Regions from separate parts of the Homo sapiens genome. Here region 2 is linked to region 1. Evidence: fine-mapped QTL for protein levels in blood plasma. Region 1 holds a variant in brackets. A gene starts in the other region. All regions are shown on their forward strands.

What was found. A credible set is the group of variants that fine-mapping cannot tell apart. PIP is the chance, under the fine-mapping model, that this variant and not a neighbour inherited with it causes the effect. The UK Biobank Pharma Proteomics Project read protein levels with antibody pairs (Olink). The fine-mapping took linkage between variants from a reference panel, not from the people measured, so its PIPs are less certain.
Region 2: it holds the start of CNTN3, and the variant in region 1 is the best candidate, but not a certain one, in a credible set for the plasma level of the CNTN3 protein (UK Biobank, PIP 0.87).

What each region holds. Positions count from the first base shown.
Region 1 is chr7:73,611,480-73,619,808 of GRCh38, forward strand. MLXIPL (MLX interacting protein like) reads right to left here. Exons shown (of 17, transcript NM_032951.3): 2 at 4,592-4,698. Among named protein-coding and RNA genes, the nearest start is that of MLXIPL, 8.9 kb to the right of the region's middle. The variant C/T (reference allele first, on the strand shown) is at 3,628.
Region 2 is chr3:74,609,609-74,617,937 of GRCh38, forward strand. It overlaps CNTN3 (contactin 3), which reads right to left and starts at 5,051. Exons shown (of 23, transcript NM_020872.3): 1 at 4,783-5,051. LOC105377166 (a long non-coding RNA gene) reads left to right here and starts at 4,195. Exons shown (of 3, transcript XR_007096257.1): 1 at 4,195-4,283; 2 at 6,665-6,839.

The DNA of each region.
Region 1 (8,329 bases):
GGGCTTTTTAGCATCATTTACAAAGTTCTGTCCTAAAGAACATTCTCCAAAATCTGCTGGGCACGGTGGCTCACGCCTGTAATCTCAGCACTTTGGGAGGCTAAGGCCGGCGTATCACTTGAATCTAGGAATTCAAGACCAGCATGGGCAACATAGTGAGACCCCATCTCTACTAAAAATACAGAAATTAGCCAGGCGTGGTGGCGCATGCCTGTAATCCCAGCTACTTGGGAGGCTGAGGCATGAGAATTGCTTGAACCCGGGAGGCAGAGGTTGCAGTGAGCTGAGATTACACCACTGCACCCCAGCCTGGGTGACAGAGTGAGACTGTCTCAAAAAAAAAAAAATAAAATAAAATAAAGCATTCTCCAAAATGGACACTGATAGGATTGAAGGAGGGGTTTTGTCCTGGTTTCTGAGCCCAGATTGGACAGAAAACAAAGGGCTGGGTCCTTGGGTGCATAGACTCCCAGGGGGCTAGATAAGGAAGGAGGGTCTCAAAGTGTGTCTGCCCCTGGCTTTCCAGATGAGGAAATGAACACCAGCAAAGATGAAGTTTGTCCTGGTACGGTGTGGTGGCTCACGCCTGTAGCCCCAACATTTTGGGAGGCTGAACTGAGAGGATTGCTTGAGGCCAGGAGTTTGAGACCAGCCTGAGCAACCTAGTGAGACCCTGCCCCTACAAAAAATTAAAAATAAAAAATAGCTGGGTGTGGGGGCGCATGCCTGTAGTCCCAGCTACTAGGGAGGCCGAGGTGGGGGAATTGCTTGAGCCCAGGAATTGGAGGCCGCAGTGAGCTATGTTGGCTCCACTGCACTCCAGCCTGGGTGATGAAGTGAGACCCTGTCTCAAAAAATAGAATAAAATTAAGTTTGTTAGGCCAGGCGCGGTGGCTCACGCCTGTAATCCCAGCACTTTGGGAGGCCGAGGTGGGCGGATCACCTGAGGTCGGGAGTTCGAGACCAGCCTGACCAACATGGAGAAACCCTGTCTCTACCGAAAATACAAAAAATTAGCCGGGCGTGGTGGTGCGCACCTGTAGTCCCAGCTACTCAGGAGGGTGAGGCAGGAGAATCGCTTGAACCCCGGAGGAGGAGGCTGCAGTGAGTCGAGAGCACACCATTGCACTCCAGCCTGAGCAACAGAGTGAGACCCCCATCTCAAAAAAAAAAAAAAAAAGTTTGTCCAGGGCTCTCAGAAAGTCAGGGCCAAGTGAAGCCCCCCTCCCCAGCCCAGAGACCCCATCCTCTGGACTGTTTCTCATGGAAAGGCTGTAACCATGTGGCTTCCTGGGGGCTGGGGCAGGCTTTGTTTAACACTGATAAGTTCTTCCCTTCACTCAGCCGCGGAACCCTTTGCACCTATGCTGAGACAGATACTGGGACAGGACACATGGATGAATCAGGCAGGGTGCCCACAGCTTAGCGGGAGAGATAAGGAAAGTAAACAAACAACCCGAGACAATGCAAAGTGGAAAGTCCTTCTTGCCCCAGGAGCGGTGCAAAGTGCCAGGGAGCTCCCAGGACACCAAGACGATTTCAGAGTGTGGGAGTATGACTGTTGGATCAGGAAAGGAAGAATCTTAGAGGATAGGAGCCTGCAGGGGGTGGCAGAGCCCTTCCTGCTTGAGCCCTAAGGCCCGACATTAGTGGCGTCAAGCCAAGTAAGCCCTTCTCCTCCCCACTCCCGTGAAGCCCACCTTCAAACCTTTGGCGTTTAGGGAGGAGGAGGGGTCTTGACATTTGTTGTATGTGTGTCACGTGCTGCTATGACTATGACAGTGAGATACAGATGATCTCACTGAAAACTCAGTGAACCTCAGAAATAGGACCTATTGGCCGGGCGCGGTGGCTCATGCCTGTAATCCCAGCACTTTGGGAGGCCGAGGTGGGCAGATCACTTGTGGCCAGGAGTTCAAGACCAGCCTGGGCAACATGGTGAAACCCCGTCTCTACTAAAAATACAAAAATTAGCCAGGCATGGTGGCATGCGCCTGTAGTCCCAGTTACTTGGGAGGCTGAGGCACAATAATTGCTTGAACTGGGAGGTGAAGGTTGCAGTGAGCCGAGATCGTGCCATTGCACTTCAGCATGGGTGACAGAGCAAGACTGTTTCAAAAAAAAGAAAACCAAGAAAAAACAAATAGGACCTGTCATTCCCATTTTCACAAATAGCAAGCTTCGACTCCGGGAGGCTAGAGAATTTCCCAAGCCCACACAGTTAGGACATGCTAGGGCTGGACTGAAACCTCACTCTGTCTGATTCCGAACCTGGGGTCCTTCCAGCAACTTGTGCAATAGCTGGAGATCAGTGTGTCTGGGTGAGGACCCCAGGTGACATCATGCCTCAGCTGCCATCAGAAATTTCTTCTGCAGGCTGGGTGTGGTGGCTCACGCCTATAACCCCAGCTCTTTGGGAGGCTGAGGCGGGCAGATCATCTGAGGTCAGGAGTTCGAGACCAGCCTGGACAACATGGTGAAACCCTGTCTCCACTAAAAATACAAAATTTGGCGGGTGCCTGTAATCCCAGCTACTTGGTGCCCACAGCTTAGTGGGAGAGATAAGGGAAGTAAACAAACAACACGAGACAATACAAAGTGGAAAGTTCTTCTTGCCCCAGGAGAGGTGCAGGAGGCTGAGGCAGGAGAATCTCTTAAACCAGGGAGACGGAGGTTACAGTGAGCCAAGATCACGCCACTGCACTCCAGCATGGGCAACATGAGCGAAACTTCGTATTAAAAAACAAAACAAAACCAAACAAACCCCCCCCACCGCCATAATTTGGAGTTGGGGAACTGTGGACTTCCAGCCAGCCCCAGCTCTGCTTCTTTTACGCTCTGTGAACCTGAATATGTCACTTGCCTTCTGAGCCTCAGTTGCTCATCCATAACATGGCGGTAATAAAACCTATCTCCCAGGGTTGCTAGGAAGCCTTAAATAAGGTGATTCACGAAAGTGCCTGGCATGTAGATAAATGGAAACCAGAAAACACACCCTCTCCCTGCTTGGATGAAATCCAGCGGGGCGAGGACAGAGAATACTGCGTGTGGTCTCTCCTGGGCTTTGCATTCCCAGCTCAGTGCAGCCTTTGATCCTGCAGCAGAACCTGACCTGAATGAGGTCCCAACACAGGGCTGGCGGATCCAAGTCCTCTCTGCCTCTGCTGCCCTGCCATGGGGAGTGGGGTGTTCCCAAATGAATGAGAATGTGACCTCCTTAAGGATACATCATGTATTGGATACCAACTTAGTGGCAACACCCTGGAATACCTGTTATCTCCACACCAACCATGAAAGTTAGGACTATTGGCCTCGTTTTTTGTTTTGCCCTTTTTTTTTTTTTTTTTTTGAGACGGAGTCTCGCCCTGTCGCCCAGGCTGGAGTGCAGCGGCGCGATCTCAGCTCACTGCAAGCTCCGCCTCCCAGGTTCACGCCATTCTCCTGCCTCAGCCTGCCGAGTAGCTGGGACTACAGGCACCCGCCACCACGCCCAGCTAATTTTTTGTATTTTTAGTAGACACCGGGTTTCACTGCGTTAGGCAGGATGGTCTCGATCTCCTGACCTTGTGATCTGCCCGCCTTGGCCTTCCAAAGTGCTGGGATTACAGGTGTGAGCCACCGTGGCCT[C/T]GTTTTTATAGATAAGGAAACAAGTTCAGAGAGGCTAGGCAACTAGCCTGAAGTCACACAGCCAGCAAGGGGCAGAGACGGGGTGGAGGAACTAGCTCTGGGCAACTCTAAGTCCAGAGTTCCTTCCACGAGATGGCATGGCCTCTCTGGATCCCCTCTGCCCAATTGGCCATGGTGGGCACCTACTGGATATTCAGGAAGGACTTCAATGAAAGGCTGGTGGAGACCCATGCGGGATCCTCAGTTTCTCCATTTACAAAGTGATGCAGTTGGCCCCGCTAGTGTCTAATGGCCCTTTTTACCCTCGCATTCAAGGCACCCAACTATGCTAATGGGATGCAAAATGGGCTTTGAACTGTACCTCAAATCTCAGCCTACCCTAGTGCTACTGAGGGGTGACCTCTGCTGTGCCCAGCTTCACAGTGGAAACACCCTTTGGGACCTATTCCCCGAGACCCGCTGGAGGTCAGGAGCTATTCAGGAGTCCTGGTGCTGGGGGCCTGGTCTCCCCCTAAAAGGCTGTCAGGGTCAGGCGTGGTGGCTCACGCCTGTAATCCCAGCACTTTGGGAGGCCAAGGTGGGCAGATCACTTGAGGTCAGGAGTTCAAGACCAGCCTGGCCAACATGGTGAAACCGTCTCTACTAAAAATACAAAAATTAGCTGGGAGTGGTGGTGGGTGCCTGCAGTCCCAGCTACTTGGGAGGCTGAGGCAGGAGAATGGCTTGAACCTGGGAGGCGGAAGTTGCAGTGAGCCGAGATGGCACCACTGCACTCCAGCTTGGGCAACAGAGCAAGACTGTGTCTCAAAAAAAAAAAAAAAAAAAAAAGGTTGGCAGAACTCTGCTAGTGCTGGCCTTGAGGACCCCGGGGATTTTCCTGGGCAGCCACCATGTAGAACCCTCTGGCAGGAGGGTTGGAGGGGGCAGTCCCTCCCGGCTTGGGAGGCTGGTGGTAGCCACTCACACTGGATATACCAGGCCCTCCAGATGGCGTTGTTCAGGCGGATCTTGTCTCTGCAGAGCAGCTTGAGGCCTTTGAAATTCTTCCACTTGGGAGACACCAGCTTGCCACTGTCAAAGGGGAGAGGAGTAGGGTTAGGGAGATGCAGTGCTGCCACAGAGGCTGGTCCCCATATTCCCCATGCACTAGGCATCCATCTATGGTTGGCATTTGAGGGGCCCCTCCAAATCTGGCCCCCCAACCCAACCTGCCTGAAATTCCTATCCAGAGAGTCAGACCTTCAAAATCCCCTTCCAGACTCCCACCAGCGGCCCCTGTGTTCCCTGGGGAGACCTGTTTGTCAGTCTACTGCAGAACAAAAGCCACGCTGAAACCTGTGGATCAGCTCGGCCCTGGAAGCAACAATGTCCAGTGGCCTCACAGGTGTGTCTTGGAGGCTGGCTGGGGACAGTGCTCAGGCCCATTTCTCATTTAAGAGAATAAGAAATGACCTTCCTGGGCTGGGTGCAGTAGCTCACGCCTGTCATCCCAGAACTTTGCGGGGCCAAGGCGGGTGGATCGCCTGAGGTCAGGAGTTCGAGACCAGCCTAGTCCAACATACTGAAGCCCTGTCTCTACTAAAAATACAAAATTAGCTGGCTGTGGTGGCGCACACCTGTAATCCCAGCTACTCAGGAGGCTGAAGCAGGAGAATTGCTTGAGCCTGGGAGGCGGAGGTTGCAGTGAGCTGAGATCACACCGTTGTACTCCAGCCTGGGCAACAAGAGTGAAACTCCGTCTCAAAAAAAAAAAAAAAAAAAAAAGACCTTCCTGAGAGTCAGGGAGGAAAGGGGCAGGTCCGAGGTCACTCAGGCCTCCTTAGGCCCAGGAGAGGCAAAGGGGATGGCCATGGTTTGCCTGGTAGAGAGGGAGCCTCTGTGTTTTGTTTTGGTTTGGTTTGGTTTTTTTTGGTTTGCTTTTGGTTTTGAGACGGAGTCTCAGTCTGTCATCCAGGCTGGAGTGCAGTGGTGAGATCTCAGCTCACCACAACCTCCATCTCTTGGATTCAAACAATTCTCGTGCCTCGGCCTCCCGAGTAGCTGGGATTACAGTTGTGCGCCACCACGTTCAGCTAATTTTTTTGGTATTTTTAGTAAAGACGGGGTTTCACCATGTTGCCCAGGCTGGTCTCAAACTCCTGACCTCAAGTGATCTGCCCACCTTGGCCTCCCAAAGTGCTGGGATTACAGATGTGAGCCACCATGCCCAGCCGAGGGTGCCTCTTTATAGAGAGTGGCAGTCACTGCCTTCATGGTACAGTCCTTTTGGTGTCTGCCATGCCCAGAATCCCAGGGTGGCAACCTGGACTCAGCGAGAAGGTGTGCTCTTCTCAGGGCTGCACAGAAGACAATGAACCAACAGATCCCAAAGGAAGGCCGCTAGGATGAGCAAATGGTATTCATGGAGACAGAGCACCCTCACTCTAACCCTAGCTGTCCATCAAATCCACAGGATGGGCTGGGCGCGGTAGCTCACGGTTGTAATCCCAACACTTTGGGAGGCCAAGGCGGGAGGATCGCTTGAGCCAAGGAGTTTGAGACCAGCCTGGGCAACATAGCAAGACCCTGTCTCTACAAAATAATTTTAAAATTAGCCGGGTGTGGTGGCATGCACCTATAGTCCTAGCTACTAGGGAGGCGAGGTCAGAGGATTTCTTCAGCCCGGGAGTTTGAGGCTACAGTGAGCTATGATCACGCCACTGCACTCCAGCCTGGGCAACAGAGCAAGATCCTGTCTTGAAGGAAAAAAAAATCCACTGGATGGAAGAGCTTACACTGGTGAGGGTCCTGCTAGGCACAGGCCAAGTCTTCTGCCTCCAGGAAGCTGAGCCAGGAGGCCAAGACATTCAGGGTCTTAGACCCCCTGCTAGTCTCTCCCTCCCTCTCTCGTCTCCATCCACAAGCCAGGGTTGTGTACCAGTCCCCTCTAGCCCGCCTTTTGCATCCCTTACTCAGATCTCAGATGGGAAGGCTGAGGCCCCAAGTCTTAGCCATTTTTTCATTTTTTTGAGATGGAGCCTCATTCTGCCACCCAGGTTGGAGTGCAGTGGCATGATCTTGGCTCACTGCAACTTCCGTCTCCCAGGTTCAAATGATTCTCGTGCCTCAGCCCCCTGAGTAGCTGGGATTACAGGCATATGCCATGACACCCAGCTCACTTTTGTATTTTTAGTAGAGACGGGGCTTCATCATGTTGGCCAGGCTGGTCTCGAACTCCTGACCTCAAGTGATCCACCCACCTTGGCCTCCCAAAGTGCTGGGATGACAGGCGTGAGCCACCGCACCTGGCCCCCAAGGCTTAGTCTTTCAGAAAACCATACCTGCTTCCTCCAGGGGTCTTTCCTACATTCTGGGGGTGAAATGTGGGTGGGTGCCAGTCTGACTCCGCAGCCTCTCCCTACTTGAGTGCATTGGTCATTGGGCCCTCTCTCCTCCCTGGTCTCCAAGTTCCTGTGTTTGCTTTGGGGTGGGGGTGGGGGACTGCCCCCTCCCCACCAGGGACAACAGGCCTCATTACCCAAATAAGATACACAGCCCAGCTCTCTGGGCCACTGGCTGGGCCCCTCCCTCTGAGAATTAGATAAACACCATCTGTTTGGTAGGGAGACATGGAGGTGGGGGTGGGGGGAGACTCTGCTACCTCCTGGGCCAGCTTCTTCTGTGGCACCTGGTGGGGGACTCCTGAGTCTGTTGTCCCTGTCTGTATCCCAGCAACCTCCCAGCCCATTCTGATCACCCCGTGTCGCACCCTTGACCTGCCTGCCTTCTCTCCCGCTTCCATGCTAAGGTTATGACGTTCATGGCCCAGGCAGGGTTAGAGCAGATGTGACAGTGACAATATCCAAGCCCAGGAGGAAGAAAAGGATTTGGGGCTGTGAGAGAAGAGACTCAGCCTGGAGGAAGAGCGTAACGCTAGGGTTCAAGAACTTTTTATGACTGGCTGGGGATGGCTCACACCTGTAATCCCAGCACTTTGGAAGGCCGAGGCAGGAGGACTGTAGGAGGCCAGGAGTTTGAGATCAGCATGGGCAACATAGTGCAACCCTGTTTCTACAGTTAAAAAGTTAGCTGGGGCCAGGCACAGTGGCTCATGCCTGTAATCCCAGCACTTTGGGAGGCCGAGGTGGGTGGATCACCTGAGGTCAGGAGTTCGAGATCAGCCTGGCTAACAACGTGAAACCCCGTCTCTACTAAAAATACAAAAATTAGCCGGACGTGGTGGCAGGCGTCTGTAGTCCCAGCTACTTGGGAGGCTAAGCCAGGAGAATGGCGTTAACCCGGGAGGCGGAGTTTGCAGTGAGCCGAGATTGTGCCACTGCACTCCAGCCTGGGCGACAGAGAGCGACTCCATCTCAAAAAAAAAAAAAAAAAAGTTAGCTGGGCATGGTGGTGCAAACCTCTAGTCTCAGCTACTCAGGAGGCTGCAGTGGGAAGATCGCTTGAGCCCAGGAGTTCAAGGCTGAAGTGAGCTGTGATCACACCACTGCACTCCAGCCTGGGCAACAGAGTGGGAACCCGACTCATAAAAAACAAGTAAATTCTGGTTGGGCGCAGTGGCTCAAGCCTGTAATCCCAGCACTTTGGGAGGCCGAGATGGGTGGATCACAAGGTCAGGAGATCGAGACCATCCTGGCTAACGCAGTGAAACCCGGTCTCTACTAAAAATACAAAAAATTAGCTGGGCGTGGTGGCAGGTGCCTGT
Region 2 (8,329 bases), not on the chromosome of region 1:
CAAGAGATGTACGAGATCACGGGCAATGTGACAGAAAGAATACTGTCAAAGTCAGCTGCAGACTTCTGCTGAATACGGACCTTCTTGACAGGATCTTTGGTTACATATGGCAAGCTCAGCAAACCAATAAGCTTAGTTGTCATAGGTTTATCAAACTCCACTGTGGGCCAGATACTTTGACAGAAGCTGCTTTGCAATAATGCATAAAATAGATGTGGTAACTGCTTACAAGGTACTTACAGAATATAAACATACAATCAGGTAAGGAAATGTACAGTTCCAAGTTATACTAAGCATACCAAGGAAATGAACAGAAAGAGCCTATCAGAAGTGCCCTCATTCAGGGTAGGAAGGAAATCAGAGAGCCCTCTCTAAGCAAATGATATTTACACTGTGGCCTAAGGGATGAGTAGCAGTCAAAAACTCTATGTGGGCCAGACTCAGCGGCTCACACCTATAATCTCAGCACTTTGGGAGGTCGAGGTGGGCAGATCGTTTGAGTTCAGGAGTTCAAGAACAGCTTTGGCAACATGGTGAATTCCCATCTCTACAAAAAATCCAAAAATTAGCCAGGGCATGGCGGTGTGTGTCTATAGTCCCAGCTACTCAGGAGACTAAGGTGGGAGAATCACTTAGCCCAGGAGGTCGAGGTTCCAGTGAACCATGATCGCACCACTGCACTCCAGCCTGGGTGACAGAGTGAGACCCTGTCGAAAAAAACAAAAATGAAAAAAAAAACCCTGTGAGTTTGTGTGTGTGCACACGTGTGTGCGTATGTGTGTTTAGGCGTTAGGGCTGGACAGGGCTACTGGGCAAAAGAACAGAATGATCCCTAACATAGGAAAGAGCTCAACACATCTGCAGAAATGAAAAAGGGTCTAAGAAGCTCTTGTTCCTAAAAGCTTGCTAGGAATTGTCAAAGGGACAGTAGTGTTTAAATCCCACACAGCCTTGCAGGTAATATTTAATAGTTTGGATTTTATTCTGAGTTCAATGAAAAGCCATTTAAGCATTCTGAGTAGATGAGTACTAATTTAACTTACATTAAAAAAAAAAGAAGTCTTGGCTGCTATGCAGGATGATTTGGGGGAAGAAGTACGAAAGGAGCCAAGGAAGCCAGTGTAGTTATCCCAGGAGAGAAGATGGGGACTTGGAGAAGGAGGACGTGGGTGAACATGGAGGGAAGTGGGCGAATGTGAGAGATATTTCAGGGTTAGAACCAAAAGGACATATAAGGTCTGAGTTGTACTAGTTCCCCAAAATAAAAGCACTTGAAGTATTGTGATGGTGTCAAGATTTACCCTATTAAAACAGTATACTGACAGCCTCATTTATCAGTAATATAATCAAGCAGTTTTGAAATATGGATCTCATATCTTAACATCTGAAAGGTAATCAAAGTCAAGGGACTTAAAAAACAAATGGGACAAAATTGTTCTCTTGTTTTAGAACATAGGAAATTTACAAGCTGAGTTATAAAGGCACCTAAGAGAATGCTATGGAATCACTACAACATAGATAATCTATGTCTTCAAATGCCAATAGGTCTGCAACAAGAAATATGCAAACTCACTGAATTATTTTATCCTACTTAAGAAAATAGTCATTTTTCCTCATTCCTTGCAAGGCAGGTTCTTGCACAGTAAAGATTCTACAAATATTTACATTCCAAGTAGCAAAGCTGTTTGAAATGCTATAAAGTTCTGCCAGCACTTCTATTACAAACCCTTATTTCTTGTTTATAACATGTACATAAAAGGGGGAAAATAAAAATGTACTATGGATTGAAACTTGGCATACAAAGTTTCAACCAGGGAGTGCATTTCTCCTGCAGCAATTTTTCCAAAGAAATGTCCCACTGTGTTTAAGAGATGAGTGCAGGGGAGACTATAAGATAAAAACCATTTACAACACTCGATCCATTTCTGAAATGTTTATACAAATTGGATATGAGAATGAGATCTGTCACCCCTCAATTTCAAAGAAATGTTCTATCTTAAACTGTTCCGTGGCCCCATATTCTCTTGCCAACTATCTTTGCAACAATGATATTCTCCATTGCACTTTTTTCAAGCATAAGAAAGGAAACTGTCCACCAGCATTAAGTGATTAATTATATATGCATGTTAAAAGTATATGCATATGCATGTGTGCATATTAAAAACTACAAGTGAGCACCTTAAAGATGCTCACCTTCATAGAGACAAAGTACCTTGCTAAGATAAGAAGGCTTAAAGGCAGACTGGTGGTGACAACTAAATCAGAGACAGCAGGCAAACATGCACAGCATCAATAAATCCTCCTGCCATCTGAATATATTCCACTACATAAAATTAACATTAGTTTTACTGCTAACAACTTACTAACTGGTGATTGGAAACCAGTCAAAGCTTCTCTGTTTTGTAGTATTGCCACAGTATAGCGATATACAGATCTGACAGTTTGGAAGCAGCAATTATATCTATATACTATTTCAGCATGAACCATATTAAGAGTTAATGAGAACTTCAAGTTGGACACTTAAATTTTGCAGTAAAAACAAAGCTGGAAGATGTGTACTGAATGTGTGAGAAGGAGTTAGGAACTTGTAAAAGAGAAAGATGCATATTTTGCAAGCAGAGAAAAGAGGCTATTAGTTTGTAATAACTGGGCATATATGAAATGTGACAGTGATAAAATTGAACATAAATCAGCAAAGGAAAGGCTACAGCTTGTTGTCCACGGCTAATCTTCTCTCTACTTGAAAGTGCTCAGCACTTTGCTCCTATTAAATGCTTTGTTGCCATTTTAAGGTACACTTGGGCTATCTGGTTGTGTTGTGAAGAATATTTAAAAGTTAGAGTTCTCCTGGAGAAATGAACTTAACATCTTCATGTCTTCGGGCTGACATTAATGACATCCAGACAGTGAGGAGGACATGAGGCTGAATGTTATTGTCTGTGGCGGCCACAGCCTGAATCTATTACCCTGCATATCAATTAGACACTCGGTGTCTCGGTTATCCTACTTTTAGACAGAAGGGCCACTTGCATGCATTCAGCCTTACTATTCATCTTATAAAAGTGTACAGCAATTTGCTATATTTCCCTGGTGGATACTGATCATTTTGGGGGTCCTCAAACCACATGTTTACTCTCAACTAATTTCAAGCAAGTATTCAAAGACCAATAATTCCCAACCCCACTCTTTATTATTTGCAAGCCAACATCCTTCCATTTAGTGAGGCTGAACCCGATCAGATTTCTTTAATGAACATTCACAAGGACCTCTCCCATTGCAACCAGTGACATGCACGTATTAGGCATCTTACAAATGTTGCACAAATTGATATGAATATTAACCTGCAGTCAACTTTCTCCCTAGTCCCATGACCCACAAATGGTTAAAACCATGAACCAAGATGCCAGGTTACTGCAGCCAAAGTCAGGTTACTGTTAGTAAACACATCTAGCAAAGCAAAAGTAACACATTTGACTTGATATTGAGATATAAGCTCTTTCAAAGGCAATTACTCCTCCTTTCAATCTCTGAAGGGCTCTGACTCATTGTTCTGATTAATTCCTGTTTTTAATCTATTTACAGATCAGGATTCTTTTTCAGCTAGTGTGATATTCATCTCTGTGGGGGTAGACAGAAACCACAGCACGTACAGTCTTCCTACTTTTTTTTTTTTTTTTTTAGTTATTCTTGCTTAATCATTTTAAAATTATTTCTGGATTTACCTACTCACCATATGAGCTGGGGTTTCTGACCTCCCTCCTGCACATCACGCCCTCCTTGTCTGTTGCTTTTTCTAGCTCTGTTTCCCTGCATCTTGGGTTGAGGTTAGCAGACTGGCTACCCCTTTCCCAGAGCTCTGTTCCCCTTTCTTTGCCTCTGAAAGGAGGTTTGCTGTCCTTACCGTAGCGGACACCGTTTGTTATTAAATAATACCTCTGGACACATCTCCTTGTTGTAAATCAATAAGCAAATGCAATACAGGGAAAGACATACGGATTGGAGAGTTGTACGGAGCTTTGCACAAGCAGAGCCCAGAAGCTGTTCGTTCATTTCACGCGACCAGAAAAAATTCCTGATGGTGCTATGACCCCGGTGCCCGGTTGGCACTTCCTGGTTTTCTGTTTCTGCTATTCTGTTACCTGCTTGGTTAGCTTTGCAGGCTCCTCAGAGAACACAGAAACAGCTGAAACCAGGGTCCGAGCTCAGGAAACCTGGACTACAGCGCAGCAGGGTAAACCTGACAAATAAACGCGACGGGGAACTCCGTCCCAAGCTGCTGATCTGTGAGTAGAAAGAAAATGCAGCTTAGAAAACTTGATCGCTAATGAAAGAATCGGCCACCCTAGCTTTCTCAGACCTGGGAATCTGGGCCTGGGGGGTGGTTCCAGCAAAGAGGTATCACATTCCCACATTCTGCATCATGCACCTGGAATTGTTCCTCAGCATCCCTAGGAGTCACAACTTTTTTCCCCCAACTTTAACTGGTCAAATCCACTGCGCGAAGGGCAAGCCCAAGGGACCTACCACTCAATTTTCAGCGCTCCAGCTGGGGATGCAGCCTTCCCAACCCGAAACCAATCCTCGCCCCAGAAGGGGAAAAATAATCTCCCCAGAGCAAGTCCGATGAGAGAAGCATCTTTTATTCTCGACCCGTCAGGTGCATTTCCCTGCAAACAAACTTCGGGGCTGAGGAGCCATGAAGCCAGGGCGTAAAGTTTGCCCTGGCAGGTGGCTCATCCCTGTGGCCCGGCCGGCGCCAGGAGTCGGGCATCCCGGACTTACCTGGTCTCTGCAGCTCGCCAGACGCCCGCCCCGACGGCCCACTCGCCGCCGCCGCCGCCGCCGCCGCCGCCGCCACCGCCGCCGCCGCAGTTAGTCCGGGCCCGGGGGGCCGCCGTGCGCGCCCGCGTAAGCCGCCGCCGCCGCAGGCGCAGCACCCTCGTCCGCACGGTTCCCGGCCCAGTCCACGGCGCCAGCCCGCCCGCCGCTGCCACCGCCGCCGCCGCCAAGCGCCAGGCTGCTGTGGCTGCTGCCGGCGCCTAGCGAGCACTGCCCGTGCCTCCGCCACTCCGGCTCCGGCTCCGGCTCCGACGCGGACGCTGGAGGGAGGGGAGACCGGGCGGACTGGAGGGAGGGAGGGGCGGGGAGCGCGGCGGAGCAGCCAACTGGGTCCCGAGCCTCGCGTCTGCGGCGCCCCCAGCGCCTCTGCGCCGGCCGGACCCCGCGCGGCCCTGCGCTCGGCCGCGTGCACCCACGTGTGTCCGGCCTCCGCAGGGCCCTGGGCGGCGGCGCGGGCTGGGCGGCGGTCACCGTGTCACCTCCGGGTGGCCTCGTGCCACGCAGTTAGGGCCCTCGGAACACGGGGTTAAGGCAGGAATTCCACTTCTAGAAAAGCCTCCTGCAGCTGCGCTCCCACAAGTGCGCAAAGATTGCCAATTTTAATATTAAAGCGGATAATTATTAAGGGCTCACTAGGTAGCAGGTCGTGGACTGCGCTAAATCAATTAGTTCATGCAGTCCCCAGAGCAACCTGGATCTATTATTATTCCCGGATTTAGTGATGAGGAAATTGGTTTGCTTAAAGTTTCAATGAGTCAGTTGTGAGAATAATCGCAACTATATTCTGTCAAGGACCCTGTGAAGTAGATCTTACCACCTTTATTTGCCCAAGTATACACACAGTGGTGGGTTGGAGAACCCGGACTTGAATAAGCCTGTTGCAGTCCTGAGCCTTTGCGCTGAACCGCTGGTGACTTACTTCCAGTCAAACCCGTGCAAACACTGCAACTTTAGTTGTACGAAAAACAGTTGGGAACAACCTACCTGTCCTTCATTAGGAGAGTGGCTGATAAAATACAGTGGAGACATACAGCGGCAGAGAGAAAGGTGCATCTACTAGTATTGGCATAAATGACCTCCAAGAGGTATCCTTAGAGGCTGGGCGGAGGTGGGTCACTCCTGTAATCCCAGCACTTTGAGAAGCCAAGACAGGTGGATCTCTTGAGCCCAGGAGTTTGAGACCAGCCTGGGCAACATAGGGAGACTTTGTCTCTGCAAAAAACAAACAAACAAAAAGTTTAAATTAGGTGGGCGTCATGGCACGCACCTGTTGTCCCAACTACTTGAGAGGTTGAGGTGGGAGGAGCACTTGAGGGATCACTCGAGCTCAGGAGGTGGAAGCTGCAGTGAGCCATGATTGTGCCACAGCACTCCAGACCAAAAGACTGAGGGAGACCCTGTCTCTAAATAAATAAAAAAATAAATAAACGGTATTGTTAGGAGAACTTGGGACATGTACTGTTGATCGGCACAGGAAAGTTGGTACCTGTACCGTTTTTGTGCTTACAAGCACTTACACACACACACACACACACACACACACACACACACGCACGCACCCTTTTGTGTGTATGTATCCATATTTATGCATTCACAATTTCTGAAAGGATGTCTAAGGATACTGTTAACAATTGTTAGTCCTAGTGAGTGAGACTGAAATTGGAGCAGAGGAGACTTTATACTTTTCATTTTATAATTCTCTGACATTGTTTTTAAAATGTATCACGTTGTCCCTTCATATTAAATAATCTAGTCACATTTAATTAGACTTGACAGTTTATGGCCCTGTTTCCTCTCCTTGATCCTCTCCCTGTGATTCCTGCAGATGGAATGAAGCAACACCTCATCAAGAGAAGCAACCTGGGCAAACCAGGCCTGGTTTAACTGCACTTTCTCACGTTTGATCATTTTCTCAAGAGATACGTGCGTGGTCCTCTGCAATTCAGAATGAAATCTGAACTTCTGGAAAAACTCTCCTAGAGGGGGTTTGAGGACAAGAGGTAAGACCCAGGTCAGTCAGATGCAAGGTGCCGCTCCCTACAGCAAAGTCAGCATGTAGGCCCCCTGCATTTCCAATTGCCACAAAGAAGTTGCTTGGTACTTTGGAAGACTGAGGTGGGAGAATCCCTTGAGCCCTGGAGTTTGAGACCAGCCTGGGCAATACAGTGAGACCGCCTCTCAACAAAAAATTTAAAAATTAGCTGAGCATGATGGTGTGTGTCTGCAGTCCCAGCTGCTTGGGAGGCTGTGGCAGGAGGAGATCGCTTGAGCCTGGGAGGTCCAGGCTGCAGTGGGCCATGATTGAACCACTGCACTCCAGCCTGGGTGACAGAGCAAGACCCTATCTCAAAACAGAACAACAACAATAACAAAAAAAGAAATTGCATGAATGGCTTGACCAGGTGATTTTTCCCTAGTCCCCCTTACTCTATGAGCATACAACAGGATTCTTGAATACATTAGGGAACTTCTGGCCACATTTGCCCTCTCTCACTTTATCAGGAAACTGCTCATCCCTACAAGAGTAATAGCTGGATTACAAAAAATTCCGGGGTTATTTATGTTTTAAAAAGAGGTTGGGGGAGACAGGAATAGATAGAGCACGCTGCTATAAATAAAAATCATGTGCTTTTTCCCCATCAGAATTAAATTGCAGTAAATTTGGACTCCTTAAGCTTCCTCTACTTAGCCAAAGGAAAAAGAAATAGAACAGGTACAGAAAGGTTGTTTATGGTTGTTTCAGTTGTTACTGGTTACTGTAAATAATCTTTTTGCTTGCAATCTGGGAACATGTTGGCAAACCCCCTGCAGGTGACAAAATGTTTTATTGGGTAGAACTGGTGTGTTCTGGAAGGAGCCGAGAGAACTTTACATGCAAATTATGCCCATGCCTTGCCCCTAGCAGGTGCAATTACTGCCATGCCCACATCCATCACAGGCATGGCTCTTCTTTTAATATTTTCAACTTGATGTCTCCTAATACATTTTTCTTCTAATACATACATATATACCTTGTCTAATGGGAAGGGAAAGAGCATTTTCATCAAGGAGGGGGAGCTGGCCACAGGCAGCAAAATGACAGGGAGAAAGACAGGAAAGAAGCTCCTTTAAATTAGAAAGAAATCTAAACCCTAACCCCTTCCAGCCCTCTCCAAATAATTAGTCATTTCTAAACTCAGATTACATTGCCTGTGCTAGTAAAAGCTGATTAGTGCTGGAAAGGGATTTAATGGAATTTTGAGTCTTATGGTTGCAGTGGGGGGGTTGGTGGGGGCTGGCAGATCCTAAAAATTGTAGAAATAATGATGAACATTTAATATAAGCCACAGTCTCATAGACAGGTAAAAGGTGTATAAATATATGTATATAGAGAGACGTGAATCATTTTATACCCTCCCTTTGCCCAAAATGTAAAGCATAATGTGAGTCAACTGAAAGCCTGGTATTTACCAAAAGTTGATACACAAGGGCAGTTTTCAATACAATTTCC